Homo sapiens: one gene and its partners. The protein of the gene in region 1 binds, or shares a complex with, the protein of each later gene. Each region holds a gene or a part of one and is shown in the gene's direction. Other genes may lie near its edges.

Region 1 (7,356 bases):
GTGTCTTCTGGGTCACTTAACTATAAATGCCACTGACTCAAAGTTAACTATATAGGCCAGGCGTGGTAACTCACACCTATAATCCCAGCACTTTGGGAGGCTGAGGCAGGCAGATCACCTGAGGTCAGGAGTTCAAGACCAGCTTGGCCAACATGGTGAAACTCCGTCTCTACAAAAATATTTTAAAAAATTAGCCAGGCATGATTATGGGTGCCTGTAATCCCAACTACTCAGGAGGCTGAGGGGGGAGAATTGCTTGAACCTGGGAGGCGGAGGTTGCAGTGAGCCAAGATCATGCCATTGCACTCCAGCCTGGGCGACAGAGTGAGACGCCATCACACACACACAAAAAAAAGAAAAAAAATTAACTATAATTCTTCTTGGTTTAGTGGTAGACGGAGGAGAAGTCCATCCCCACCACCCACCAGAAGGCGACGGTCTCCTTCTCCCGCCCCTCCTCCTCGACGGCGCAGGACTCCCACACCACCACCACGACGAAGGTACTTTGTCAAATATGCTAACTGGAGCATCTCCCCAACTCCCCCCGCCCCTGATAACATCAGATGAGTAATGGTGCTCACTTCCTAACAAGGTTGGAGAGAGGCACAGCTCATGTGTGCATGTGAAAACCCAATCATCATGCTTATGAACTACAAAAGGATCTCTGAATCTTTCTGATGATTATATCTTATTAGAGTAAGCAGACTAGCATTGTTCAGCCAGTCATAAAAGAACACGTATGATTCCATCTATATGAAAAGTCTAGAATACACAAATCTATAGAGATAGAAAACAGATTAGGGTGGGGTGGACATGGGGATGGTAATAGCTGCAGAACTATATGAATATACTAAAATCATTTAATTGTATACTTTAAATGGACCTTAAATGGGTAAATAGGTAGATTTTATAGCAGGTGAATCATGTATTGTCATAAAGATGTTAATACATTAAAAGATGGTATTGACTAGTAATTGTAAAGAGAAAATTTAGAGGATACTGGCAGATATCTCTTACCTAAATAATCAAAGATAACATCCTCAATAAAACATTGGCATCGTGTATTTCCTGGATACCTCTGTAGTATGCTTACCAATTATGCCAAACCTCAGTCTTATTATTAGGAAATAATCAGACAAACCCAAATTGAAAGTCATTTTACAGAATACCTGACCAGTATTCAAAAGTGTCAGTCATGAAAGACAATGACAGAAACAGTCACAGATTGGCAAGAACTAAAGAGATGTAGGGTCCTGGAGCAGAAAAGGAACATTGATTAAGTCCTGGAACAGAAAAGGGACATTCAGTAGTGGAAAACTGGGTTGTTTGCTATTTTAGTAATACTAAGTTATCACTGAGGTTCATTTTACAGTTTTGCTAATTTTCTTATGGTTATATAAAATATTAGCATGGTGAAGTGGCAAATCTCCTATTTTTGTAGCTCTTCTTTACAACTATTTTAAAGTGAAAATTAGGGGAAAATGTTTTAATGTCATTGCTCGGATATGTTGCCAAGCAATGTAATGACATGCTGCCACTCTTTTTTTTTTTTTTTTTTTTTTTTTTTGAGACAGTCTCACTCTGTCACCCAGGCTGGAGTGCAGTGGCCGATCTCAGCTCACTGTAACCTCCGCCTCCTGGGTTCAAGCGATTCTCCTGCCTCAGCCTCCCGAGTAGCTGGGATTACAGGCATCTGCCACCACACCCAGCCAGTTTTTGTATTTTTTGTAGAGATGAGGTTTCACCATGGTAGCCAGGCTGGTCTCAAACTCCTGACCTCAGGTGATCCGCCTCAGCCTCCCAGAGTGCTGGGATGACAGGTGTGACCCACTCTGCCCAGCCTGGCTGCCACTCTTGAATGCCTGTTAAGTGCCAGGCAAAGTGCTAGGTGCTTTATATGCTTTACTACTAGTCTTCAAAGCGACCTTGCTTGATAGTTGGTATTGTTTGCATTTTTCAGGTGAGGAAATGGGAGTTGAGAATTACTAAGTAATTACCCAGATACAGTGATGAAATTGTGCCCTACCACATTGCCAAAATATATGGCCTATTGTAAAGCTAACTCTGGGCAGGAATTTACTTTGATCTAAAAGTCTGCAATATCCAAGAGGAAATTAGGCAGTTTGGCCTGAAAAGTGGCCTTTTGAGACAGAAAATGGAACAGTCTCTTTGAGGGGAGGTAGAAGTGTCTTTAAGGCTTGTGCAGTGAACTCTTAATTATTCATACAGTGTCCAAATGCTCATTCAGAGAGGATACCACATAGGAGACCTCTTTAAAGTGCAGACTTCCTAAGGTGACCATAATAGAGTTTTGCTAATACAGTTACTTGGTTATTATATAATAACTGATGTTCAGTTAATACAGTGCAAGATTCTGTTTTCAAAAAACGTTAATTTTGTATAGATGTTAAAAGATTGACAAATTCACATCTTCTGAAAATTGCAAATTTTTGTTAATCAAAATGTCTTTTTTTCTTTTTTGTACTTAGTCCTGCAGACAGTGTCCTGTGTTGCAGTCAGCTGAGATAAACAAGTTTTATTGATATTTAAGTGAGAATATAAAGATAGCATGTTCACTTATAAATATATTCCCTTTGCCTAGTGCTAACTACAGTATAGCCAAACCTACTGATTACTTTTCATCCTGTTTCTGTATTTTGTTGAGCCTTTCAGCTTAATTATGTATCTTTTTCCTAGGACTCCTTCTCCTCCCCCACGTCGGCGCTCACCTTCTCCTAGAAGATACTCTCCTCCAATACAGAGGAGATACTCTCCTTCTCCACCTCCAAAGAGAAGAACGGCTTCACCTCCTCCCCCTCCTAAACGAAGAGCATCACCATCTCCACCACCAAAGCGGCGGGTCTCCCATTCTCCACCTCCCAAACAAAGAAGCTCCCCAGTCACCAAGAGACGTTCACCTTCATTATCATCCAAGCATAGGAAAGGGTCTTCCCCAAGCCGCTCTACCCGGGAGGCCCGATCACCACAACCAAACAAACGGCATTCGCCCTCACCACGGCCTCGAGCTCCTCAGACCTCCTCAAGTCCTCCACCCGTTCGAAGAGGAGCGTCGTCATCACCCCAAAGAAGGCAGTCCCCGTCTCCAAGTACTAGGCCCATTAGGAGAGTCTCCAGGACTCCGGAACCTAAAAAGATAAAAAAGTAAAAATATTTTATGCTTTTCCATTAGGAATACTTACATAGCTGTTTATATTTGGAAGCTTCCCCCCACCCCCATATAAAAGGAATAAGTTATGAATATGAGCTTTTAAGTCAAACTTGAGGTACTATTTACAGATCTTATTCCATTTTTTGGGATAGTTTCTGTGGTATAAGTTAAATGCCACAGGCTTTTACTTGGTTCTTAGCAGTTATTAATTTGTTTTTGAGGGGTATGCTTCCAAAACTAAACTTGAGTAAGACATTGAACATTTCTTGTGTGTGATGTAAGGAACTGACATTACTAATCTTACATAAGAAGCATCATTAACAGAATAGATAGAGGATTATGGGGCTTTAGCCACCCTCTGGGAAACATAGGTAATGTAAATTGGATATATGTTAGTTGAATCAACCAGCAATCTAAGTGGTATATTTGAAATTCATAACCTGGTTGTACAGTGTAGTTGGTGGTTTTCTCATGTGAAGAGAGATGGCTGTTCTCAATGCTGAATGTTTTTTCCTTTTTGTCTAGGGCTGCTTCCCCAAGCCCACAGTCTGTAAGAAGGGTCTCATCCTCCCGATCTGTCTCCGGGTCTCCTGAGCCAGCAGCTAAAAAGCCCCCAGCACCTCCATCCCCCGTCCAGTCTCAGTCACCGTCTACAAACTGGTCACCAGCTGTACCGGTCAAAAAGGCCAAAAGCCCAACACCGAGCCCATCACCGCCAAGAGTATGTGTCTGCCTTATTTTGGACACCCTTTTATAAATATGTATATGGTCACTTTGAAGCAGAGAAAATGTCATTGGGGCATTAAAATATTGGTGTTTAAACTTTTTTTCCCATTTGTGAGTTATACATCTGATCTTGGGCAGGTTTCTGTATTGCATAAAATCAGTGGTTAGGTGTCCATCTGTTTTTTGTTTGTTTTTGAGACAGGGTCTCATGCTGTCACCCACGCTGAGTGCAGTGGGATGATCATAGCTCACAGCAGCCTTCCTGGACGCAGGTGATCCCTTCGCCTCAGCCTCCCAAGTAGCTGGGATTATAGGCACATGCTGCTACACCTGGCTGGTTTTTTGTTTTTAACTTTTTGTAGAGACAGGGTCTTGCTGTGTTGACCAGGCTGATCTTGAACTCCTAGCCTCCAGTGATCCTCCTGCTGTGGCCTCAGATGTCCATATTTAATTGGGTTGACTGAATAGTTGTGCAAGCTAACTTGTGAGGAATTTTAAGTAATTGCTTAGAAGTGTGAAATTGAAATATTATGGATTAAATTATAGGAGCCTGCTTTTTGCATAAATTTGGTATGTGTGTCATGAGGAAGAACCAGTCATCCCCACTCTAAAGATAGGAGAGCTCAGATGGTAGCTAGAGACATGGCATTCATACAGGCATGTGTTTAGACTAATGGCTGGTACCATTTATTAAAAGTCTGCTACATGTTAGGCAAGTATTATGGGTGATTTACAGATATTCTCATTTAATTTTCACAAGAGCTTTATCAGGTAGGGATTATTACACTTATTTTAGGTAAAAAGGTCTCAGAAAGAGTTCAACAATTTGTCTAAGGTCAAATAGTTCAGGAGCTGGAATTGAGCTCATCCTGGAGATAGCCCCTGACTTTTGAATACTTTTCTTGGTGATAATTGGCCTTGGGCCTTCCCCACTCACACCCTCCAAAGCCTTTCGGAAATCTTGAGATTTGTCCATTGGGGATTTGAGGAAATAAAATGTTCAGTTGGACAGAATATTAATCAGATTGATTATAAATGCTGGGTGTTGTTTTTTTTTCTTCCTAGAATTCAGATCAGGAAGGAGGTGGAAAGAAAAAGAAGAAAAAGAAGGACAAGAAACACAAAAAGGATAAGAAGCACAAGAAGCACAAAAAACACAAGAAGGAAAAGGCTGTGGCTGCAGCTGCTGCAGCTGCTGTGACCCCTGCAGCCATTGCAGCTGCCACAACCACATTAGCACAGGAAGAGCCAGTGGCAGCGCCAGAGCCGAAGAAGGTATTTATGAACTCTGTATATGGCTGTCTTGCAGTTTACGTACAGATAGCAAAGTCATTTTGTTTTGAGAAGTAGCAAAATTGTTTTTTCTACTAATTAGCCAGTTACTCTGAGATAAAAGTCACGTACCATACAGTTCACCCATTTAAAGTTTGTGGTTCCCTGGGTTTTAGTATATCAGTTGTGCAGCGATCCCCACACTTTTTTTTTTTATAAAGGTGACTTATTTATTTAAAATATTAACTATCCACAGTGGCCATTATATTTGCATACAGTTCAGTACTCAAAAGATTTGTGAGGTTGGTTTTTTTTTTTGTTTGTTTTTTAATTTTATTATTATTATACTTTAAGTTTTAGGGTACATGTGCACAATGTGCAGGTTTGTTACATATGTATACATGTGCCATGTTGGTGTGCTGCACCCATTAACTCGTCGTTTAGCATTAGGTATATCCCTCCCTGCTCCCCCTACCCCACAACAGTCCCCGGTGTGTGATGTTCCCCTCCCACACTTTGATTCTGCTCTTTACTCGGCATTTCCCACCAGGGTCTCAAGACTTAACCGTGTAAATTCTGTTTTTTTTAGGAGACTGAAAGTGAAGCTGAAGATAACCTTGATGATTTAGAAAAGCACCTGCGTGAAAAGGCCCTGAGATCAATGAGGAAGGCCCAAGTGTCCCCACAGTCTTAGGGGGAAATGTTTGTTATGATGTAAATTTTATTTGGTTTGTACGCAGTTCAATTTCAAAATTGCTAAAATGTGTTTGAGCTTTAGACTATAACATTTGTTGTAATAATTGCTAGGTTGAAGTTCAACATGTAAAAAAAGGGGGCATGGATTTACATTGCAAAAGGTGTCCACAGTGTATTAGTGACATTCTTTCATTGACAGCTGACATAATTCATTGAGTGAAATATTTTAAGCCAAAAAAAAATTCCCTTTTTAAAAAAGGGGGTTTAAATACTGTTGGCATTTTTATGGTTCCTTTAAATGCCCTAGCTATTCCCAGAGGGGTTTTTTTGTTTGTTTTTTTGGTTTTGATTTTCTTTTTGTTTTTCTTTCTTCTTCTTATTTTTTTCATTTGAGTCTTAGCTCCCATTTAAGTTATGCTTCTGACCTTGTATGGTCTGTAAGCTTGCCCAGAAATAAGACCACTGTTTTGAACTACCACAAAAGTATAAATGAATATTTTAATGCCACAATCTTTCCTGTTGCCTGTGGAGTCTCTGCTGAAATGAATCAGGATTCGAGCTCTAGGATGAGACAGAAAATGAAAGCATGTTGTTTGCCAGGACACTGTGGGTTTATATTGATGTGTAACAAGTTGATTTGGAACACTGGACTCTCATTCTGTTATTCTGGTTTTGTTTTTTTTGTTTTGTTTTTTTTCTTTTGTAAAGGCAATGAGCTAGTCCCAGAAAGGATCCTTCAGTTACATACAATTTGTTTAATGAAATGTCATGGCTCTGTTCATATTTTTGTCTTGTTCTTCCAATTGGTATATACAACTTTCAGAGCCTCTTGTATTTGGAAGGCTGGAAGGGCCCAGACTTTGGAATAGTGTCTTGGTTTCACTGTTTTTGTTTTGATTTTTTTTTTGTTTTGATTTTTTTTAAACTAAAGCTATATAAAGCTTGTGGATTAAACAGAATAAATTTCTAAATTTAAAAATTTTGCCACTCTTACTTAGTAGTGCTTATGTAAACCTTTTGGTGTGTTGGGAGTTGGGCAGGGGAAAGAAAAGGTGATGAAATTAAGGTTTTACCATCTTTATTTCAATAATTACTGTGGTGAGTGCTATAAAGGGAATCAGCATGTGATTGGAACATTTAGAATACTGGTGGGAGAAGTCCACCAGGCAAAGAGAACAGGATTGCAGTCAGACAAACAGTGTCTGTGTCTTCCCTGAGGCAGAAGGAGCCTGCTGGCATGTTAGGAAGTGAACAAAGGCTAAGGAATGACTGGAACACCCTCTGTCAGGGGCGGGGTGGGGGGGGGGGGGTTGTGTGTGTGTATGTGCGTGTGTGTGTGCGTGCGCACGTAATATTTGGCTATCTACAACCAAGTCTGTTTTGCATTTAAAACTAAGTGGAACGAAAATTTGGGGAAACTTGGAGTTGTTAACATAGTGTGAGGTAAAACAGCAACATTCGTATGAAAGAAGTTCACCAGAAACCTAAGCTGA
Region 2 (7,876 bases), on another chromosome or scaffold:
GGCTCACTGCAACCTCTACCTCCCGGGTTCAAGTGATTCTCCTGCCTCAGCCTCCCGAGTAGGTGGGACTACAGGCACCTGCCACCACACCCGGCTAATTTTTGTATTTTTAGTAGAGCCAGGGTTTCACCGTGTTTGCCAGACTGGTCTCAGGTGATCCACCCACCTCGGCCTCCCAAAGTGCTGGGATTACAGGCATGAGCCACCGCGCCCAGCCCCAAAACACATTTTAATTGTCAGTCAGATTCAGGTGAGCCTGAGTTGTATCCAGTTTCTGTCTTGGGTAGTCTGACCATAAACCTGGCGTTCATTTGTGGCACTAGAGGTTATGGTATTCTTCAGGGGAAGAAAAGGATTGGTAAGGACTTGGGAACTGGATGAAAATTTAATAACAGGCTGGGAGTGAGGAGCCTGGAGCAGAAGGTTTATGAGAAACTGGAGCCCTGTTGCCCCTGAAGGTAGAACAGGGATAGTGGGTAGAAGCTCTAGAAACCATTCCTCTAGAAACTGCTCATATACAACAGGGGCGGCCCCAGAGCATAGTTTTGTTTGTTTTATTTTTGAGAGGATCTTGCTCTGTGGCCCAGGCTAGGGTGCAGTGGCTCCATCACAGCTCCCTGCAGCCTCGACCTCCCAGAACCAAGTGATCCTTTCACCTCAGCTTCCCGAGTAGCTGGACTACAGGCACATGCCACCACACCCAGCTAATTTTTGTAGAGATGAGGTCTCACTGTGTTGCCCAGGCTGGTCTCAAACTCCTGGGCTCAAGTGATCCTCCCACCTTGACCTCCCAAAGTGTTGATATTACAGACATGAGCCACCACACCTGGCCCATAGTTGTTCTTTTCTGAGTGTTCAAGCAGAGGCTGGGTGGCCAGTTAGCACTTGAGGAAAAGAATGAATGAGTATAAGATGGCAGCTAGCCAGACAGAAATCTGCAGAGACAGCACATCTTTCTACAATAAGGGCTGACCCATTCTAAATAAATTATAGTTCTCTCTCTTCAGAAGGTTCATACAATAAGCTGCTTTTTCTGTAAATGTGGTGCTTGTTGAGGTTGATGCTGGCAGATTGGTATCACCCTCCCATGCCAAGCTGGTCTCACCTTCAGGCTCCCCATTTGTCCATCCTGCAGTCTATCCTTGTTGCCACATTTATCTTTCCTGAGTGCTGCCTTAACCCTATTGATCTTTCCTCTATCGACAAACTTGACTGACTCCTTTATCTGAAGTAACGACCCCGTCCAGTGTCATTATTCGACTGCTCTGGTCCTCACATCCTGTAGGCTCCTGCCCAAGTGCCTGCTCTTTTCCTTGTGCAAGCTCTTGCCTCATAACCCTCCAGTAATTTCAGGCCCTTTTTACAGGCCTTGTGGTACCACCTCCATTTCTCAGTCCCTAGTCACTCAACCTAGAGGGTTCTGTCTCACCTTCTAGAGTATGCACTCTGGAGGGTCAGAACCACATCTGGTATATACTTGTGACCTTCATGGTGCCTTTGAAATCTGAGTGCCAGGCAGTGCAGGGGAAGACAGTTTGGACCAGCAGTTTGAAGCTGTTTTCGTTAGGGTTTAGCACCTTCAAGAGCTCTTCACATCTTTGCTCAGCAGGCAGTGCAGCACAGCCAGGGCTCTGAAGCTAGGCCAGCTGGTTCGAATCTGGAGTTCCCTGCATTCCAGCTGTTTGACCTGGGATAACTGCTTTGGTTTTTTTAACATGTAAAGATGGGAGCACTCGGCTGGGCGCAGTGGCTCACACCTGTAATCCCAACACTTTGGGAGGCTGAAGCGGGCAGATCACCTGAGGTCAGGAGTTCGAGACCAGCCTGTCCAACCTGGTGAAACCCCACCTCTACTAAAAATACAAAATTAGCCGGGCATGGTGGCGCATGCCTGTAATCCCAGCTACTCAGGAGGCTGAGGCAGGAGAATCGCTTGAACCCGGGAGGCAGAGGTCACGGTTAGCCGAGATTGCACCATTGCACTTCAGCCTGGGCAACAAGAGTGAAACTCCATCTCAAAAAAAAAAGGGGGGGAGCACTCATACCCACGCTGAAGGTGTTGTGAGGACTGTTTAGGTAAAGTGCTCAGTGCAGTCCCTGGTGTACACAGTTAGTACCGATGATTGCTGGGTAATTCACCAGCTTTGTCACAATGTCAGTCTGCTTTTCTGGACTTCCCCCTCCCACCAGTCAAGGCCCTCCCCACCGCTGGTGCTGTTGACCGTTAACTTATTAGCTGGTGATTTCCTTCCAGATGTCCAACATCACAGTCACATACAGAGATGGCCGAGTGGCACAGCTGGAGCAGGTATACATCCGTGGCAGCAAAATCCGCTTTCTGATTTTGCCTGACATGCTGAAGAACGCACCCATGTTAAAGAGCATGAAAAATAAAAACCAAGGCTCAGGGGCTGGCCGAGGAAAAGCTGCTATTCTCAAGGCCCAAGGTAGGTGCTTTTCATGCACAGGTTTTAAAATATAGGTTTGTCTTGTGTCTTGTAGAAAGGGGCCCTATTACTGCCTGGAGACAGAGAGGGTTTGACCTCTGCTCTCTCCACACCCACCACCCACTGCCACCCCTTCCCCTTGCAGCGTGGAGTGATCCTGTGAGGCCATTATTTTATTTTTTTGAGACAGAGTCTCGCTTTGTCACCCAGGCTGGAGTGCGATGGTGTGATCTCAGCTCACTGCAACCTCTGCCTCCCAGGTTCAAGCAATTCTCCTGCCTCAGCCTTTCAAGTAGCTGAGATTACAGTGCGCACTGCCCTGCCTAGCTAATTTTTTTATTTTTAATTTATTTTTATTTTTATTTTATTTTTAATTTTTTTTAATTTTTTTATTTTTTTGAGATGGAGTCTCGCTCTGTCGCCCAGGCTGGAGTGCAGTGGCGTGATCTCGGCTCACTGCAACCTCCGCCTCCCGGGTTCAAGCAGTTCTCTGCCTCAGACTCCTAAGTAGCTGGGATTACAGGCACCCGCCACTGCGCCGGGCTACTTTTTGTATTTTTAGTAGAAACGGGGTTTCACCACCTTGGCTAGGCTGGTCTTGAACTCATGACCTTGTGATCCACCTGCCTCAGCCTCCCAAAGTGCTGGGATTACAGGCGTGAGCCACTGCGCCCGGCTTATTTTTATTTTATTTATTTATTTTTGTATTTTTAGTAGAGATGGGATTTCACCATGTTGGTCAGGCTGGTCTTGAAGTCCTGACCTCACATGATCCACCTGCCTCGGCCCCCTGAAATGCTGGGATTACCAGTGTGAGCCACCGCACCTGGAGAGGCCCATCTTTTCTAGAAGTTCTGTGTGAGAGGTGTGGGATCGCTTGCCCTTGTCTAGTTTGCCGAGCAGACACAGCCCGGAGCAGATGAGCTGACTCGAGTGTGAGGGCAGCATTTCCTAGCGAGACTGGGTCTTATGGATGGACACCAGCATGTACTTAGGGAGGTCTGATAGTGGAGCTCCGTTTTCAGAAATAAAGCCACCTTTTAGTACATTCCAAAAGTGGGACTGTCCTTTTCGCAGTCCCCTAGTCTGGTCTTGCTTCTTGGTTAGCCTAATTTGGTTTTATATTTAGGTTCATGAAAGTTCTGTCATGTTGATTAGACAACAAAGTAATTGTGGCCCTTGGAAACTGTCTTAGTGTTGGTAAAAAAGGTTTGCAGCCAAGGAAGGCACTGGATTCTTCATTGGTATCTTTAGCTGCTGTACATGTTTTATATGTGTGTGAGGAAAAAAGTCAAACTGTGTTTTTCCTCTGCTCTCACAACACAACAATCAACAAAGACTTCTGTGACCAAGCAAGCAGTCAGTTCTGCAGTAGACACCAGCTGGGTGTCCTTCAGTTCTGACACTATCTACCTGGAGATAGCCTGAAAAACCACAGGTTGAGGGCTCGGTCCCACAAGACAGCCCCTGCACCCCCCACTATTATTCATAAGCACAGGCCTCCAGAACATCTGAATGGCTTCAAGCCAGGGTTCTCACGTCTCACTCCTTGGGTTCGATTAATTTGCTGGAGTAGCTCACACAACTCGGGAATCACATACTTAAATTTACTGGTTTATAACAGGATATTTTATAGGCTACAAATAAACAGCCACATGAAGAGATGCATAGGGTGAGATCTGGAAGGGTCGCAAGCACAAGAGCTTCTAGCCCCATGGAGTTTCCTCCCGGCACATGGATGAGTTCTTGTTCACCTTCCTGTCAGGCTGCGCATGATCAGCTGTCCCGAAGCTCCCCTAACCCTGCCCTCTTGGGCCTTTTATGGAGACTTTATTGGATAGTCATGATTAAAGGATGGACAACCATGTGGAAATGCCATTAGACAAAATGGGTGTGATCTAACACTAATAGACGGGGTTGGGAAACCCCGCGAGGCCTGTCCAGATTCTTTTTGGCCTCTCTCTGCAGCATTTGTTCCTCCAGGGTATAGGGCAGGACCTTTCTCTGGAGTGAGGTCTTATGACCCACAATCAGATTAGGGTCCTGCCTTGGGCAGGTGAAAGGAGGGCAGGAGAAGTTTCAAGAGAGAGATTCTGTCTCCTGAGTCCTGCTTCTGAGGCCTAAAGTGCCCCAATGTTATAACAAAAGACTATAACAAGGACTATAGGAGTTACGAGCTGGGAACCATAGATGAAAGCTCAAGTTTAAAGATGTAATAGTGTGAGGGGCCGGGCGCAGTGGCCCATGCCTGTAATCCTAGCACTTTGGGAGGCCGAGGTGGGCAGATCACGAGGTCAGGAGTTCGAGACCAGCCTGGCCAACACAGTGAAACCCCGTCTCTACTAAAAATACAAAAATTAGCTGGGCATGGTGGCAGGTCCCTGTAGTCCCAGCTACTCGGGAGGCTGAGGCAGGAGAATCGCTTGAACCCAGGAGGTGGAGGTTGCAGTGAGCCGAAATCGTGCCACTGCACTCCAGCCTAGGTGACAGAGCTAGACTCCATCTCAAAAAAAAAGAATATTTTATTTGTTCTTCAAAGCCTGTCTTCTCCTAGAACCCCTGGGTTACAGAGGAGAACAGCAGTCTTATCATGCTATTTATATGGAGTGTGTTTTCTTTTTGCTACTATGAAATAATTCTTTTTTTTTTTTTTTTTTTTTGGAGACTGAGTCTCCATCACCCAGGCTGCAGTGCGGTGGCTTGATCTCAGCTCACTGCCACCTCCTCCAACTCCCAGGTTCAAGTGATTCTCTTGCCTCAGCCTCCCAAGTAACTGGGATTACAGGCGCATACCACCACGTGCAGCTAATTTTTGTGTGTTCAGTAGAGAAGGGGTTTTGCCATGTTGGCCAGTCTGGTCTCAAACTTATGACCTCAAGTGATCTGCCTGCCTTGGACTCGCAAAGCCCTGGGGTTACAGACATGAGCCACTGCACCCAGCCTGAAATAATTATTTTCTCAGAAAAAAATACAAAAGATAATATAACCCTTCTCCCAGATCTAACACATGTTAACACTTAACTATATTTGTTTCAGAATTGAAAAAATTAATTCAGTGCATCTATAATGTTTTTCAGCTCACCCAAGGCCAGCCCCAAGGATTTGTCTTTTCTGTAGCTCTCAGACCACCTTCTTTGCCCTCAGCATGCTGCCTCCCAGCCTCTTGTAGAGAGCAGTGTGGGACTGGAAGGCAAGAGTGTGCTGCTAGCTCCTGCTTTGATGCCAGTCCCCAGCCCCTGCCCCTCCGTCTCCATCCCCCCTGTTAAATGCAGTGGCTGTCAGCTGGACGTGTTGGCTTATGCTTGTAATCCTGACACTTTGGGAGGCCGAGGTGGGTGGATCACCTGAGGTCAGGAGTTTAAGACCAGCCTGGCCAACATGGTGAAACCCTGTCTCTACTAAAAATACAGGAAATTAGCCGGGCGTTGTGGTTCACGGCTGTAGTCCCAGCTACTCAAGTAGGAGGCTGAGACATGAGAATCGCCTAATCCCAGGAGGTGGAGATTGCAGTGAGCCGAGATCATGCCACTGCACTCCAGCCTGGGTGACAGAGTGGGACTCCGTCTCAAAAAATAAAAAAAAAAAAAGGCGGGAGGTGGAAATGCAATGGCCAGGGTGGTGTTGGACCAGGTAACCCTTCAGAACCCTTCTAACTGGTGTCCTAGGGCCCTGGCTACTCTGTGCTATGAGCATTCACCGACCACACTGACCTGGCCTCATATTTTCTCTTCCCTTTCAGTGGCCGCAAGAGGAAGAGGACGTGGAATGGGACGTGGAAACATCTTTCAAAAGCGAAGATAATTTTCTAAGTTGAACAGAACTTTGTCCTTTTTTCTTTCAGGTTATCTGAGTTCATTGGAGTGGGTGCTTGTGCATATATGCTAGGTATCTTTTGCCATCTTTCTCTTTAGATCAGGGGAAATGTTTAAGCTAAATAAATCTGGGGGGTTTTTTGTTCTGTTTTGTTTTGTTTTCTTTGAGAAAATAAGGACTTTGTGTTCATTTGAAGTTTGCTTTGGCTAAATTTTGACACCCTGGGGGATGTCCTGGGAGAATGCCAGTACTTTGAAATAGCACAGCTATTGATGAGATTTTAAGCTGCTGTTCCTGGCCAGTTGCAGGTTAAGCCCCAGAAAAGTTCACCTTGGAGAAGCTCCGAGAACACACAGATTGTGTCTCATTCATCTTCAGACACAGGCACATAGTGTGGCACTTTGTTCAGTTAACATTTGTGGAGCTGTCATCAGCTCAGCTTTAACAACACAGGTGACTCTTTCCCTTGATAAAGTCATAGGTAATTCAGGGGCTGGGTGCGGCGGCTCACGCATGTAATCCCAGCACTTTGGGAGGCCAAGGCGGGCGGATCACGAGGTCAGGAGTTCGAGACCAGCCTGGCCAATATGGTGAAACCTCGTGTGTACTAAAAATAAAAAAATTAGCCGGGTGCGGTGGCATGTACCTGTAGTCCCAGCTACTCGGGAGGCTGAGGCAGAAGATTCGCTTGAACCCAGGAGGTGGACATTGCAGTGAGCAGAGATCATGCCACTGTACTCCAGCTTGGGTGACAGAGCGAGACTGCACCTCAAAAAAAAAAAAGTAATTCAGGGGATCCTAGTGGCCAGCTTCCTTGGCTCGTATACTGGCTACAACAAGTAGTTTTGTGGTGATTTGTGGAAACAGATTCTTGGGAGCATATCAGAGCATCTCAGCATTGATTGGCACATCCATAGTTGTTAATGTAGGAAGGGTGACCAGCAGCTCAGCACAGTGGCTTGCTTCCAGCACTCTGGGAGGCTGAGGTAGAGGATTGTTTGAGAGGAGTTCAAAACCAGCCCGCGAGACATAGTGAGACCCTGTCTCTACAAAAAATTCTAAAAATTAACTTGGCATGGTGGTGCACACCTGTAGTCCTCGCTACTAGGGAGGCTGAGGTGGGAGGATCACTTGAGCCTGGGAGTATGAGGCTGCAGTGAGCTATGACCTTGCCACTGTACTCCAGCCTGGGCAAAAGAGCAAGACTTTGTCTTTAAAGAAAAATAAGTAGTAGTAAAGAGTATAAGATACACAGGGTGAATAATTGTGACAAAAACACAGAAACTGGAAAAGCAGCCTGAAAAAATCAAATCACCAAAAAGAGGTCTTGCCAGGTATTCATTATGGTATGAGCTACAGCATAAGCCATCAAGAGGAAAACTGATCAATTATTGGCTTTTAGAATATTGCTCATTGAACAGATTATTCAAGTAATGAAAGAGGAGGGGAAAAAAATCCAGCACATTAGTTAACCTGGCATCAATTAATGAGGTTCTAATAAGCTTTGTCTTATGATACTACCTGGAGGTTACAGAGCTGGTATTCTGAGGAATAAGCATCAGTGAGTTGGTCAGATACAATAGACGTTTAAAATAGGGCTTCAGGCCAAACATGGT
Region 3 (6,772 bases), on another chromosome or scaffold:
AAATATATTGCATCTTGTAGGGTGCACTTTCGGTTTCAGTGTCTTCAATTGATTGATAGAGAATTAAAGATAGCTGTCTTGAGTCATCAATATCCTAGTCCCTAAGTTTCTTAACTTGCATTTTTTTCCACCTTAGTCTTCAGTTGTATGGCCTCACCATGTTAGTGTTATTAGTGCCCTGCCCCTGAAATGTGATATTCTCACGTTCCATTCTGTAACAACTATTGTCCATTAGTTCTTTCATTCAGTAGTCTTAAAAAGTAGTCCCATCATACTCATTCTTAGATTTTCAGTACCCTGATCTTTTAGCTTTTTAGAATTCTTGCAAGTTGTCTCCTATTTATATTCGTCCTCCAGTTTGTAAATCATTATCTTTCACTTAAGCATTTTCTTTATTATATTCAGGCACTAGTTATGTAGTAAATTTTCAGCCTTGAATTGATCCAGTTATCTTCTTGAGATAATGAATACCTATTCTCTTTCCTAATATGTCTATTGTGTTTTTATAGATTTGGGATGTGAGAACTAAAGCCAGTGTACACACATTATCTGGACATACAAATGCAGTTGCTACAGTGAGATGTCAGGCTGCAGAACCACAAATTATTACAGGTATGATCGATACTTTTCAAGTTTACAGAATATTCATGTCAGAATCCATGTTATTATACATATACTTTTAATATTCATGATGACTCTTGCTCTGTATTGTGTTTACAGTGTTTCTGTGTCATATTTTAATCATGGACAATTGAAATGTATTCAAATGAAATTTCATTCCACTGTTTTTACCTCATGCTTTTTACATATCATAGAGTATGCCATACATAGTATCCTGTAATGTCTGACTAGAATACTGTGTTATGAACAATTATTATTTTATAGTGTCAAAATTATTTTTCTAAGAAATTGAAGTTAGAAGACAAAACATCTTGAGACTAGTAATCTTTAGAACTGATTTGAATCTTACTTTGCTCTAAATAAAGTTAGTAACAATGGATCTTTAATACTAGAAAATAATTCCTTTGCCTGATGTATTTTATTAACTTAAAAAAATCATTGAAGTTTTTTCCTTTTCACTAGGGTATACAATTATATATTTATTTGTTATTTGCATTTGTTTTAGCTGTTCAATTGACAGTGAATCAATTGTTGTATTGCATTTTTTTAAAGAATTAAAATCAACCTAAAAATTTGGAACTATGAAGAAATTAGCCAAGACTAATTTGCGTGTGATATGACTTTCATTTAGAACATATGTGTTTTGGAAGAATGCTTTGTATTTTATTTAACTTTTGCATTATTTTTCCTGGTCTATGTTTTGAGGGATATATGTGTTTCCATTACAGGAAGCCATGATACTACAATTCGATTATGGGATCTGGTGGCTGGAAAAACAAGAGTGACATTAACAAATCACAAAAAATCAGTTAGGGCTGTGGTTTTACATCCAAGACAGTAAGTGTATTTTCCTAATTAGCTTCTTGTTTTTCTTCAGTTCTTAAGATAATGCTGAAATGCTAGTGGTGTTAGCACTGCTTTTGGCAGTCATTTAGCTGCTGTCATTTCTAGGCCTGTGCCGCATAGGAACGTGTGTTTCTTTTATTTTCCTCATGCACTATTTTGCTTCATGCCCTATAAAACATGAGGAAAGCCTTCTACTTGATAACAAATAAATAATGTCAAATGAGACAGTGTAAATCATGATTAAATGCTGCATGTCAAAATAAAAGATATTAGTGGCTAGGCTTAATGTTTTGGACATAAATGATTTTGGACACTGAGACATTCATTGAATAGTTTAATTCTTAAGGAGGAAGTTAATATATGTAGAAACAGAAATAATAAGAACCGTGAACATTACAGTCAGAGTATCCAAAAAGGTGGAGCATAATATCACAACTATTGTTTGGTGTATCAGATCACTCTGACACTTTTCTGGATTCTTCCTCTCCTTCCTTTCCTCTTCTCTGTCTTCTACTCTCCATACCCTTTTCCCCCTCTCTTCTTCCTTCCTTTGCTTATCTTTCTCACTCCCATTTCGCCTCTCCTCCCTCCTGTTCTCTCTCTTCCTCTTGCCCTCTATTCCTTTTCTCTCTTTCTTCCTGTCCTGTCTTGCTCTCCCTCCCTCCAAAAGAGTTGCATAACACATTGCCCTTCATGTGAAATAGGGCTTCTGCACATTTATTGCTCTGGCTTAGTGCAGAGCATTAAGGAAATGAAAGGAGAACAAAACATTAATCTAGGACTTAAAATATACTGTTAAAAATGTGAAGGTCTGATTTAACCTTGAACAAATGTCTTAATATTTTTACATTTTGATACGACTATTTTGCTGAATATATAAATCATTGAGTACACACTGCAAAATATAACTGAAATAAACTTTTTAAAACCCACCACTTTATTTAACTTGGTTTACTTTGTCGTTAATTCTTTTTAATATTATTTCAGTTACACATTTGCATCTGGTTCTCCAGATAACATAAAGCAGTGGAAATTCCCTGATGGAAGTTTCATTCAAAATCTTTCCGGTCATAATGCTATTATTAACACATTGACGGTAAATTCTGATGGAGTGCTTGTATCTGGAGGTAAAATAAGATTTTTATAATAAATATGTTTAGTCTGTTATTTTTTCTTTTAATGATGAATAAACATTTGTAATGCTTCTAAGCTGTCACACTTAAGTATTATAGCAGCACTTGCCTGGTTAGGGCATATTTGCATGTTATTATGTGTGTTCATGCATATTCATATTACATGTAGTATATTTCATAGCTTAGTCCTCTTTGAGTTCCCATCTAATGAATCTCAGGGATTTATGCTGGGAATTGCTTAAAATTTTGTTTATTATTCTGGAATTGGATGTCAGATTTTCAGGTGCTTTTTAAGATCTATAAGTTCTGAACCCAGCCCAAATGAAAGTAGACAAACCAATATTAAGAGAAGGTGGAGTGCCTGTGTCTTATGTATTTTTATAACCGTAGTATTCCCATGCTTGGGCTAATGATGCTTCATAAATGTTTGTCAAGCTGTACTGCTGAGGGGATACCAGGTGTAACTAGATTTTTCCCTTTAAGCTGACAATGGCACCATGCATCTTTGGGACTGGAGAACTGGCTACAATTTTCAGAGAGTTCACGCAGCTGTGCAACCTGGGTCTTTGGACAGTGAATCAGGAATATTTGCTTGTGCTTTTGATCAGTCTGAAAGTCGATTACTAACAGCTGAAGCTGATAAAACCATTAAAGTATACAGAGAGGATGACACAGCCGTAAGTTCTGTGTTTCACATTCGTTAAGTAAAACAGCTATACCAATTTGGCAGCATATTCTCATTTAATTATCAGAAGGAAAAATAATCTTTATAGTATTTAAGATATCTGTCTTCTTGAATAGTGTCCATTTATATATTTCTATATTGTTTCACTGATGCCAGTGAATCCATGGATGGCTTTAATTTTATCCCAACTTCCTTTGTTATAGTTGCTGGGAAATGTTGCACCAAGAATAACAGCAAATAAATAGATTGCTATGTAAATTAATTCGAGAATCATAAGCTTTGGTGTTAGTAGAATATCCAAGTAGAAATGTTATTTTAGATGGAAAACTACAAACTAAACATAATGAATCCATCCATCTGTTATTAGACTTGGATAATGCCAGAAGTTTATCAACTCTTCCTAAAACTGTCAAAGAACTAAGTGTATAAAGCCAATGAATAATGTTAGATACCTTATTTTTGTTAGAAAGGAAGCCTATTAGACATGAAGCAAACTAATAATACTTTATTTTAACTCACTTTTCTATTTTTAGACAGAAGAAACTCATCCAGTCAGCTGGAAACCAGAAATTATCAAGAGAAAGAGATTTTAATGAATGTGGAATTTTTTCTCTCTCTTTTTTTTTCTTTTTAATTAAAAAAAAAAAAGCTTGGCGTTCATGAGGATATCCAGTCATTTTGTGCTCTGGCTGGGAATATAAAGGAGAAATTCACTTGCTTCAATCATTGCTGCTTCATATTTTACAATAAACTGTCCCCTGTCCCCTACCCCTGTGTTTTTATTTCTAAAACAATTTGTGATACTAGGAAGATGCAGATATCAAGTAAATGCAGGTTTATTGAACATAACTATTCTAGATGTAATATTTTGACAGTCTTATTAGAAAACCCCCTTTTTTAAAAAAAATGTATGAAACCGATAATTAGGACATTTGAAGGAGCAGTAGTTTTTTTTTAGTCCTTTAAAAAATAACATCTGTGACTAATAATTTGAGATTAAAAGATTTGAAGTCTTAATTTATGTATGTTTATTCCAAAAACAGTTTTTGAGTGTATGTTCTACAAAGTTCTGCACTAGATACTGTTCAGGAAATAGACAAGTAAGATGTGTCTATCCTCTAAGACTTCCAGTTTGGTAGCTTAGTATAGAAATTCTGTAACAGAGGTGCAGGTGAAATGCTGGGGGAACAGAAGGGATAAGACCATTTATTTTTCTCAGGAAGGATTGTGGAAGACTTCATAGAGTAAGTGGCATTGGAGATTACCTTGAAGTGAAGGAAGACAAAGAAGGAAAAGAGATGAGGCATAAAGTGATGAAACCAGGCACAAGAAAGTGTGCGGTGTGTTCTGGGACAAAGAATGTTCTGCTACTGTCGAATAATGGGACTAAAGCTGGCTTGTTCTGGGGAAAGCTCATATAAGTATGGATTTTATTCCTCAACTAGTAGGATACCAATACTGGTATTGAAACTTGGGGAAAATAACTGGAGATACCAGTGCAGCTATTTAAAGCTGTAGCAAGGGCTGCAATCTTGCGGAGATTTTAAAGAGAAGTTTTAAAGTTTCTAATACTGATGCCTCTTTTTGGTAAATACAAGTTTTATAAATCCTGCCCTGGGATCCTGATTCCCCATTAATCAAGATTTGTCAGACTTCACCTTCTATAATTAGAAAACACAGTTATAAGAACAGTCAATTTTTTAAATTTTCCAAATTAAAAAATTGCACCATGATTTTGAACAAGCACTTCCAATTACATTACCCATCTTGTATGCCATAGGTGGGAGTATAATTGTCACAGCCTTTAGGAATGTAGTTTTCTGGGATTTATTGAAACTTTGAACCTTTTGGCCTACTAAGTTCATTCCTAGGAAACTGCCTAATGGGAATGATCTGACAAGTGTACACAAGCAAAGTCATTGCACCTTTGTTCTTTAATACTTAAAACTAGCCCAAATGCCCTGTCAGTAAGGGACTGGTTTAATAGATGGTACCTTTATGCAATTTGTTTCTAAGTATTCGTTAAGAGAGTGAGGAATGTCTGGATTATTAGGGCAAGATTTCTAAACTTGGGTAAAAAAAAAAGTTGTGCAAGCATTTTTGTGGACAACTTGATGCTCTAAAATATAAGTAACACCACATTACTAACAGTGGCTTTGTTAGGAAGCAGAATTATGGAAGAACTTTCATGGGTGGCTTTACATATTTCTATAATGTTTTAATTTTCTATAAGCATGTATTTCGTAAACTTAAATAAAGAAAAAAGAACACTACACTTGCATTCCTGAGAGATTCTGATATGCCTTCTAACAAGAAAAATCAGAGGTGGATGCTGTTCCATCTCTAAAGGCCAAGAAGAAATTACTAGTACAAGGAGATGAGAAAGCCCCTACCGACCTGTCTGGCAAAGCTTCAACTATTGTGTTCAAGTTAGGTATACGTATCAAATTCTGAAAAGCATTAAAAAAAAATCTCTTTCCCTGCTCCATGCTGCCCTGTATTACAGTGTTCTTGAATCCTCTGTTGCATTAATTCATATACCATAATGTGTTTGTGAACCCTATGAAAGATGCAGAATTTCATGCATGTGCCCTTTTACTTACCTGACAGACATCCAACCAGGGTTAAGCTCAAATCTTTTCCACTGCCCATTCCGTACAGCTTGAGTGTAGTCAAGCTATAAAATGTTACCAAAGAAAAACAGCTCCACTGACTGGACTCATTCTTGGTCTATAACCACATATCTCAAGTGGGCCATCAATAATGACCAAATACACATTTCCATAGTTAATGCCTTCTGCCTGCTGTTACAGAGGATGAGCAATCTGCCTCACAACAATTCCCTCTGTGCAGTTGTTGCCATACACTCTTGCCCACTCAAGGACCTTGCTCCCATGATTAAACTCTTTCTCTCCTGTACCATGAATTTCTTCCCTCTGCCCTAAATGAGTGTCATCAACAAATAGGTTGCAATACTGCTTCTTAGAAAAAAAAAACACTAAACCTATTGTTTCCCTCTAGGAATACACCCATTTCTCTACTCTTACAGCCAAACTCTTAGAGTTTTTGATAAACTTATTTCTATTTCCTCACTTTACATTTTTTCAACCAATTGCAAAAAAAAAAAATAATGAAAATGTGTTAAACATTTTTCTTTTGAAAAAAGGAATTGGTAAGTTAATAAGGAAAAATAATAAATACTGATTTTTTTGGTACAAAAATAGATAAAACTAGATAAGCCAATTAAACAGAAATATAAATAATAGAAACAAAGGGAGGAGGGAAGTAATAACTAAAAGAGCTCTGTCCAATTCCATGCCATTTGCCAAACAAAATGATTAAAGAAAAAAATAGCCTATGGCTATTTCAAAAGGATACAGAAAACATAAACAAATTAATTGCCATAAAAAAATGAAGTTGTCAAAGACAGCCACCTCTACCACCACTAACACATACATCACTAAACCTGAAGAACTTCAGAATTGAA
Region 4 (7,876 bases), on another chromosome or scaffold:
TTATACTCTATCCACATGGAGCTTACACTCTAATGGGACAGAATTGGAATTCTAGTGGGACAGAATTCTAATTAGCTTACATTCTAATGGGACAGAGTGAGTAAAATCATAATGCAATTTCACGTAATACATGCTAGGAATAAAATAAAGACCGGGTTAGAGAGTGACTCAGAGTTTGGGGTGAAGTGGCTATTTTGGGTAAGGTGGTCAGAAAACAGCTCTAGAGAGAGGTAACTGAGCAGAGACAAGAGTGCTGAGATGCAAGCTGTTGAAAGATCTGGGGCTACTCTAGGCATACTGCCTGTGGGATAGCCCTGCCCAGCAAGGAGCAATCAAAAAAGAAAAGATCTGGAGATCTGGAGAAGAATTTTCTATAAAAGCATACGAAAATTTGTTCTTTTTTTTTTTTTTTTTTTTTGTGGCAGAGTCTCACTCTCACCCAGGCTGGAGTGCAGTGGAGCAATCTCAGCTCACTACAAACTCCACCTCCCAGGTTCAAGTGATTTTCCTGCCTCAGCTGGGATTACAGGCGTCCGCCACCACGCCCGGCTAATTTTTGTGTTTTTAATAGAGACAGGGTTTCACTATATTGGCATGGCTGGTCTCGAACTCCTGGCCTCAAGTAATCCACCTGCCTTGGCCTCCCAAAGTGTTGGAATTACAGGTGTGAGCCACCTCGCCCAGCCGGAAAAATTGTGATTGATTGCAATAGATAGATAGATAGAGAAAAATTGTGATTGATTGATTGCAATAGAGAAAAATTGTGATTGATTGATTGCGATAGATAGATAGATAGATAGATAGATAGATAGATGATTAGATTGATTTGATGGCAGAAGGAATAGCCAATGTAAAGATCCTGAGATGGCTTGTTTAAGAAAAGATAAGAAGGCTGTAGTGAAATAAAGATGGTGAGTGCTGGGGAAGAGTGTATTTATTTCTCCTACAACATTTAAGGAGCTCGAGCTGTGAGCTAGAAGTCTTGGAGCATTAGGGATGAAAGAAGCATAAGGCGTGATTCCTGCAGAGCTGCTCACAGTCTCATGAAAACAGAATAGTTAAATGAGTAGATGATTGCAATACAGTAAGGTAATGTTGTAGTAGTGGTATGTAGAGCGTTTTGGGGGAGCATAGAGACAGGCAGTTAACCCAAACTGGAGGAGTCATGGAACAGCCCTGAAATAATCAAACATACAGAACCTGTATTGAAAGTGTCTAGATACTATACCAACTGGTTCATGGATTTCTCTCATTTAATACTTATAAGAACCTTATGAAGTAGATACTCTTATGAACTATTATTACAGATGAGAAAACAGATTCAGAGAGGTAAGTAGCTTATCCAGGTTAGTAAGTGGCATAGGTCGGATCTGAATTCTGAGCCTAGCCATCACTTACCTCCCCAGACTGGATTAGATCCCTCTCATGTAGACTGTCATAGCATCTATATTTTTCCATCATAACTTAACATAATGTGTAATTATAGATTTGTGTGATTTTTTTTTTTTTGGTCTCTGTCTGCAAGACTAAGCTGTCTTTCTCCATTTATAGTCTCATGCCTAGCATAGTGCTTGTACCCAAATAATAAATATTTTTGAATAATTAATAAGCTCTGCTACTTAGGTATGCTTACTATCCAAGAATCACAAAGGAACTAAGGTTATTTTCTCCATATTCATCCATCAGGATCCTTTTGTAATACTTTGGAGTATCACTGTAATACTTTAATACTTAAAAGTTGTTAAGAACCATTTAGTAGAAAGGTTACCTTGACTAAAGAATAAGCTGCATCTTCAGGGCTTCTGCTTTGATTCTTTGGCCTCTAAGGGTTTTTTTGTTGTTGTTTGTTTGTTTGAGATGGAGTTTTGCTGTTGTTGCCTAGGCTGGAGTGCAATGGTGCAATCTTGGCTCACTGTACCCTCCACCTACCGGATTCAAGTGATTCTCCTGCCTCAGCCTCCCGAGTGGGATTACAGGCGCACACCAGCACGCCTGGCTAATTTTGTATTTTTAGTAGAGACAGGGTTTCACCATGTTGATCAGGCCGGTCTTGATCTCCTGACCTCAAGTGATCCACCCACCTCGGCCTCCCAAAGTGCTGGGATTACAGGTGTGAGCCACCATGGCTGGCCTGGCCTCTAAGTTTTAAATTTCATTGTAGATACCCTTGACACTTAAATATGCAACTTGTGTTTATTTTATCCACCTCTTTTTTACATTCAGTTTTAATCCTAGTTCTTTTGTATTTACACTGAAGTAGTTTAAAGTAAGGAGCATAATGGTAAAAATGTTAAAAACAAGGAGTAGCCAGGCGTGGTGGCTCATGCCAGTAATCCCAGTACTTTGGGAGATGGAGGCTGATGGATCACTTGAGGTCAGGAGTTCGAGACCAGCCTGACCAACATGGGCCAACATGGCAAAAACCAGTCTCTACTAAAAATACAAAAAATAGGGATGTGGTGGCATGCACCTGTAATCCCAGCTACTCGGGAGGCTGAGGCATGAGAATCACACGAATCCAGGCGACAGAGGTTTCAGTGAGCCGAGGTTGCACCACTGCACTCAAGGCTGGGCGACAGAACGAGACTCTGTCTCAAAAAAAAAAAGGAGTATAAGAATAGCAAGTATATACTGGACAGTTTATCCCTGAAGTATTAGGAATGTTTACTTGTTTGTTATAAGAAATATGGAAACAGGCTGGGCGTGGTGGTTCACACCTGTAATCCTAGCACTTTGGGAGGCCGGGGCGGGCACATCACCTGCGGTCGGGAGTTCGAGACCAGCCTGGCCAACATGGCGAAACCCTGTCTCTACTAAAAATACAAAAATTAGGTGGGCGTGGTGCTGCACATCTGTAATCCCAGCTACTTGGGAGGGTGAGGCAGGAAAATCACTTGAACCCAGGAGGTGGAGGCTGCAGTGAGCTGAGATGGTGCCACTGCACTCTAGCCTAGGTGACACAGAGAGACTCTGTCTCAAAAAAAAAAAAGGAAAGAAATATGGAAATACGGAAGCATGGCCAGGTGTGGTGGCACACGTCTGTAATTCCAGCACTTTGGGAGGCCAAGGTCAGCGGATCACTTGAGGTCAAGTTCAAGACCAGCCTGGCCAACATGGTGAAACCCCATCTCTACTAAAATTGCAAAAATTAGCCTGGTGTGGTGGCGCATGCTTGTAATCCCAGCTACTTGGGAGGCTGAGGGAGGAAAATCACTTGAACCCAGGAGGCAGAGGTTGCAGTGAGTGGAGATGACACCACTGTACTCCAGCCTGGGCAACAGAGTGAGACTCTTTCTCAAAAAAAAAAGGAAATATGGAAGCATAAACGCTTAAGAGTTTGTCTGTTATGTGAAATATCTGTTAATTTTTTATTCTGGACATCATTTGCTGTTGTCCTAGTCAGATGTTTTTACTGTGTATCTTTGAGTACTTCTGTCTTCCACATATTATAAAATGGCTAGTATTGAGTACTACCATAAATCATTGAAAAATCTGCTCTTTTTCTGAAAAGTAAAAGCATCGTAGGAAAAATTGTCTCTGTGGCCAAGTTGCAGTGGTCAAATTAAACATAAGAGTTTTTTAAATTTCTGACTTTTATTATCTTTGCTTATAGCTTTTTACCTGCACCTACTCAGCTATCTCAGGACCAGCTTGAGGCTGAAGAAAAGGCAAGATCCCAGAGATCACGGCAGACCTCACTGGTCTCCTCCCGAAGAGAACCTCCCCCGTACGGATACCGGAAAGGCTGGATACCTCGGTTATTAGAGGTACATATAGATCTTAAGTTTAGATTTGTTAAATTGTGCTGAAATTTATTATAGCACACTATAACATAAATTTAAATGTTAGAACCTCTGATTATGAATGTCAGTGTGATAGAAATTCTGGTTATGTGCTCTCAAGATGTATATTTCCCTCAGAAGATGTATCATTTTCTTTTTGCTTATTATCTATCACTGCTTTGTGGTCACTAGAGAACTGTACCATTTGTCTATTCCTATATCAAACTATTAAATATTTACAAGAAAACTAATATTTTATAAATTCAGGAATTACGGAAAATAATGGGAAAGTAAAAGATAAGAGAGATGAAAGTGGTTTTCATATTTGGGCTCCTCCTCCTCCTCCTCCCCTCCGATAATACCACATAACCCTGAAGAGACAACTTTCCTTCAGGGAAAACTCCAGTAGCACTTCCTTTGCTGATTTCTTTCTCTTCACCTGTTTTCTTACCTTTAATTTGAGAATGTTAATATATATCTGATATATAGATTAAATATATTTTTGCGGGTATAAGACAAAATTTGGTTGATTTGAAGGCAATGAGGGAGAAGGAACCATCTGGAATAGCTCTTTCTATCTCTAGCTTGTTGCCAAATAACAAGCTTCCGGTCGGGCGCAGTGGCTCACACCTGTAATCCCAGCACTTTGGGAGGCCAAGGCGGGCAGATCACCTGAGGCCAGGAGTTCGAGACCAGCCTGACCAACATGGAGCAACCCTGTCTCTACTAAAAATACAAAATTAGCCAGGTGTGGTGGCGCATGCCTGTAATCCCAGCTACTCCGGAGGCTGAGGCGGGAGAATTGCTTGAACCTGGGAGGCAGAGGTTGTGGTGAGCCAAGATCGCACCATTGCACTCCAGCCTGGGCAACAACAGCAAAACTCCATCTCAAAAAAAATAAAAAATAAAAATAAAAAGAACAAGCTTCCTTGGCAGCACCTATTCTAATTACTCAGGATCCTTTACATTAATTAATTAATTTTTATTTTTTTTATTTTTGGGATGGAATCTCGCTCCGTTTCCCAGGCTGGAGTGCAGTGGTGCGATCTTGGCTCACTGCAGCCTTCGCCTCCTGGGTTCAAGCGATTCTCCTGCCTCAGCCTCCCAAGTAGCCAGGATTACAGGCACGTGCCACCACATCCAGCTAATTTTTTGTATTTTTAGTACAGACAGGGTTTCACCATGTTTGCTAGGCTGGTCTTGAACTCCTGACTTCAGGTGATCCACCTGCCTCGGCCTCCTAAAGTGCTGGGATTACAGGTGTGAGCCACCGCGCCTGCCCCACACTCTTTATTAGAGTTTATAAGAGGAACACCCAACTAGATCATATCTTGTCCTATGTATTCCAAAAAACCCACATGTAGGTCTTTTTGTTGCTTTTTTGTCAGCTTTCCTCTGGTCCTTATGAATGCTGGTGTGTGAAGGCCAGTCATATTGCAATTATTAAGGGATTTTTGTTGCTTTTGTTCTCTCTGATAGTGTTATTTATGGGAGGCAGAGGAAGATGAAAGATTATCAAGGAGTCTTACCTGGGGCAAAAAAGTAGTGATTGGCATCATCTAATAGAGCAGTTGAGTGTCTCTGTTGAGGCATTATAAATATTGTTTGGTCTGTCAGTACATTGCACAATGAGGGTGACAGGCATCATCTTACATAGAATGTAAATCTCATCCATGCATTTCAGCATTACGATACTTGGTTGCTATTAGATTTTTAGATTCTTACTTGGCTATCAGTGGTTTCATATATCCTGGTGAAACAGAACAACTTATTTGAAAATCAAGTTGAAATGGCTAGCTAATCTGGAAATGCTATGGATGCTGCTTGAGGGGAGTGAATGTTCTGTGGAAGAAGGCATTTTGTTCTAGTTTTCAAAATAAAAGCTATGATTTTCTGGCAAGCTTAATGACCACATAATGCTACAGCTACAGTTCTGAAGTACTTATTATAGTTGAAAAACTCTAGCAAATCCAAGCATGTGTCAGATTGATGGCTTGGGTACGGGAAGCACTTATCTTAGGAATGCTTTAACTCTTTCTCATTTACAAGAAAATGTCTCTCAGCTTTATTCTCTTGGTTTTCAAAAACTTCAAACATCTCTTTAGCAAATAAGCATATTGTACTTAGGAACTCATATATCTTAGATCTAACGGAGTATTACTTAAAGAGGTCTTGTAAAAGTGAATATTTTCTTTTTTTTCCATCAAACCCCCTCTAAATGATTAATTTTAATTTGTGTTTTCTATTATTTCTTAATAGTACTCATTTGGCTGTTTTGAGCTAAAAGAAAGGTATTTCATAGTAGTAGAAAATACAAAGCTTTTCGGAGTCTCAAAAGATCTGGGTTCAGGTGCTGCATATAATACCTATGAGATCTCAGGAACACCGCTTAATTTTTCTAAGCCTGAATGTTTCCATTTAAAATGATGTTAAAGAGTTACAAGGATTAAATGAGATAATACATGTGTGAATCATGTTTAAAGTGTACTAAGCAAATACTACTGAATTTTTTTTAACTACTTAAAAATTATACTTGATCCTCATGTTTATTTGATAAACCTTTTTAAAATACTACATTTCATCAGCAAACTTTATTTAGCTTGTTCTACTTTAGCAGTCTCAGTTCTCTCTCCTAAATAATTATGTATAATCACTAGTAGAAATGTAGTAAACTCATTTCTGGATCCTTCCTATTGTATTCATTTGCTTCTCACATAACAATGAATAAATAATATGTTAATAAAATCTGATTCCAAGAAAAAATCTTTTATATTTCTGCCCCAAGTATAGCTTTACCTGTTCCTCACTAAAATATGTATTTATATGCTAAAATATATACACATATATTTTGCCTTGTCCTAGCCATTTTACTTAGTTTCGTCCTGCATATATGAAATCCACATTTTCTTGCTGTAGCATGTAAGTCCCTTTGTGATCTGGTGTTTTTTACTCATGTAACTTGTGCCTCAAGCTCTGCTGTCCTTATTAAGCTGTTAGCCCCACTGAATTCTCATTTCCTAAAATATACCAAGCTCATTCTTGCAGCAGGGCCTTTGCATTGGCTATTTGATCCATCTAGAAAATGCTTTGTGTGTGTGTGTGTGTGGTGTGTGTGTGTGTGTGTGTGTGTGTGTGTGTGTGTGTGTCTTCCCATGACTGCTTTCTAATCATTCAGGCTTTAGCTCACATGTTACTTCTTCACAAAGGCTGTCCCCAACCACCCTATCAAAAGTAGCCCCTTTTCCCAGTCTTTTTCTTTTATATTACCTTCATGGTACTTATCACAAGCCAAAGAATGTGTTTTTTATATCTTTGCCTACTAGAATGTAAACTCCACAAGAGGCAGGGAACTCTGCTGTATCTCTAGCATCTAGCATACTAAGGACTCAACAATTACTTGTTGAATGAATGAATATATCTTGAATGTCAAATGATGATTAACTATTTTATTTAACTACTTCTAATGTGTAGGATTTTGGAGATGGAGGTGCTTTTCCAGAGATCCATGTGGCCCAGTATCCACTGGATATGGGACGAAAGAAAAAAATGTCGAATGCGCTGGCCATTCAGGTGGATTCTGAAGGAAAAATTAAATATGATGCAATTGCTCGACAAGGACAGTCAAAAGACAAGGTAATCCTCTCATGTTTTCCCTGAATGATAAATATTTTAGGAAACATTTTAAATTTTGTGGACACGATAAATCTCTTGCTGTTTGAATTATGTTAAAAGTAGCAGTGGCTGGGCATGGTGGCTCGTACCTATATTCCCAGCTACTTGGGAGGCAGAGGTAGGAGGTTTGACTGAGCCCAAGAGTTTGAGGATACAGTGAGCCACTGCACTCTTGCTTGGGTGGCAATACCTTGTTTTAAAGGGGGAAAAAAGTACATTTTAAAACAGTTACTTTATATTACTAGCATTCTAAAACTGCCAGTAAATTTTTAAAAATCTGCAACCCCAGAGCCTTACCATCAACTTTTAATTTATCCTGTAGTTTCTTCTAGTTTTTTCCTATAGTCTTGACTCATTTCCTCCATGTACTTAGAGTACTTACATGTACTCTATTACAAGTATTTAATAGTTTATTTGAGTAT

The links.
Region 2: SRRM1 (region 1) and SNRPD3 share a complex: the UniProt entries of both Homo sapiens proteins name them as parts of the minor spliceosome.
Region 3: SRRM1 (region 1) and PLRG1 share a complex: the UniProt entries of both Homo sapiens proteins name them as parts of the minor spliceosome.
Region 4: SRRM1 (region 1) and SNW1 share a complex: the UniProt entries of both Homo sapiens proteins name them as parts of the minor spliceosome.

What each region holds. Positions count from the first base shown.
Region 1 is NC_000001.11:24,666,426-24,673,781, forward strand, and holds the end of SRRM1 (serine/arginine repetitive matrix protein 1), read left to right. Parts: intron 1-389; coding exon 390-500; intron 501-557; exon of another isoform or gene 558-662; intron 663-2,697; coding exon 2,698-3,162; intron 3,163-3,694; coding exon 3,695-3,890; intron 3,891-4,960; coding exon 4,961-5,170; intron 5,171-5,756; coding exon 5,757-5,861; 3' UTR 5,862-6,856; downstream 6,857-7,356. UniProt on the Homo sapiens protein: Part of pre- and post-splicing multiprotein mRNP complexes. As a component of the minor spliceosome, involved in the splicing of U12-type introns in pre-mRNAs. Involved in numerous pre-mRNA processing events.
Region 2 is NC_000022.11:24,565,730-24,573,605, forward strand, and holds part of SNRPD3 (small nuclear ribonucleoprotein Sm D3), read left to right. Parts: intron 1-2,254; coding exon 2,255-2,447; intron 2,448-6,186; coding exon 6,187-6,248; 3' UTR 6,249-7,876. UniProt on the Homo sapiens protein: Plays a role in pre-mRNA splicing as a core component of the spliceosomal U1, U2, U4 and U5 small nuclear ribonucleoproteins (snRNPs), the building blocks of the spliceosome.
Region 3 is NC_000004.12:154,533,791-154,540,562, reverse strand, and holds the end of PLRG1 (pleiotropic regulator 1), read left to right. Parts: intron 1-509; coding exon 510-612; intron 613-1,349; coding exon 1,350-1,458; intron 1,459-2,454; coding exon 2,455-2,594; intron 2,595-3,083; coding exon 3,084-3,277; intron 3,278-3,818; coding exon 3,819-3,878; 3' UTR 3,879-5,558; downstream 5,559-6,772. UniProt on the Homo sapiens protein: Involved in pre-mRNA splicing as component of the spliceosome. Component of the PRP19-CDC5L complex that forms an integral part of the spliceosome and is required for activating pre-mRNA splicing.
Region 4 is NC_000014.9:77,750,858-77,758,733, reverse strand, and holds part of SNW1 (SNW domain-containing protein 1), read left to right. Parts: intron 1-3,613; coding exon 3,614-3,767; intron 3,768-7,253; coding exon 7,254-7,415; intron 7,416-7,876. UniProt on the Homo sapiens protein: Involved in pre-mRNA splicing as component of the spliceosome. As a component of the minor spliceosome, involved in the splicing of U12-type introns in pre-mRNAs.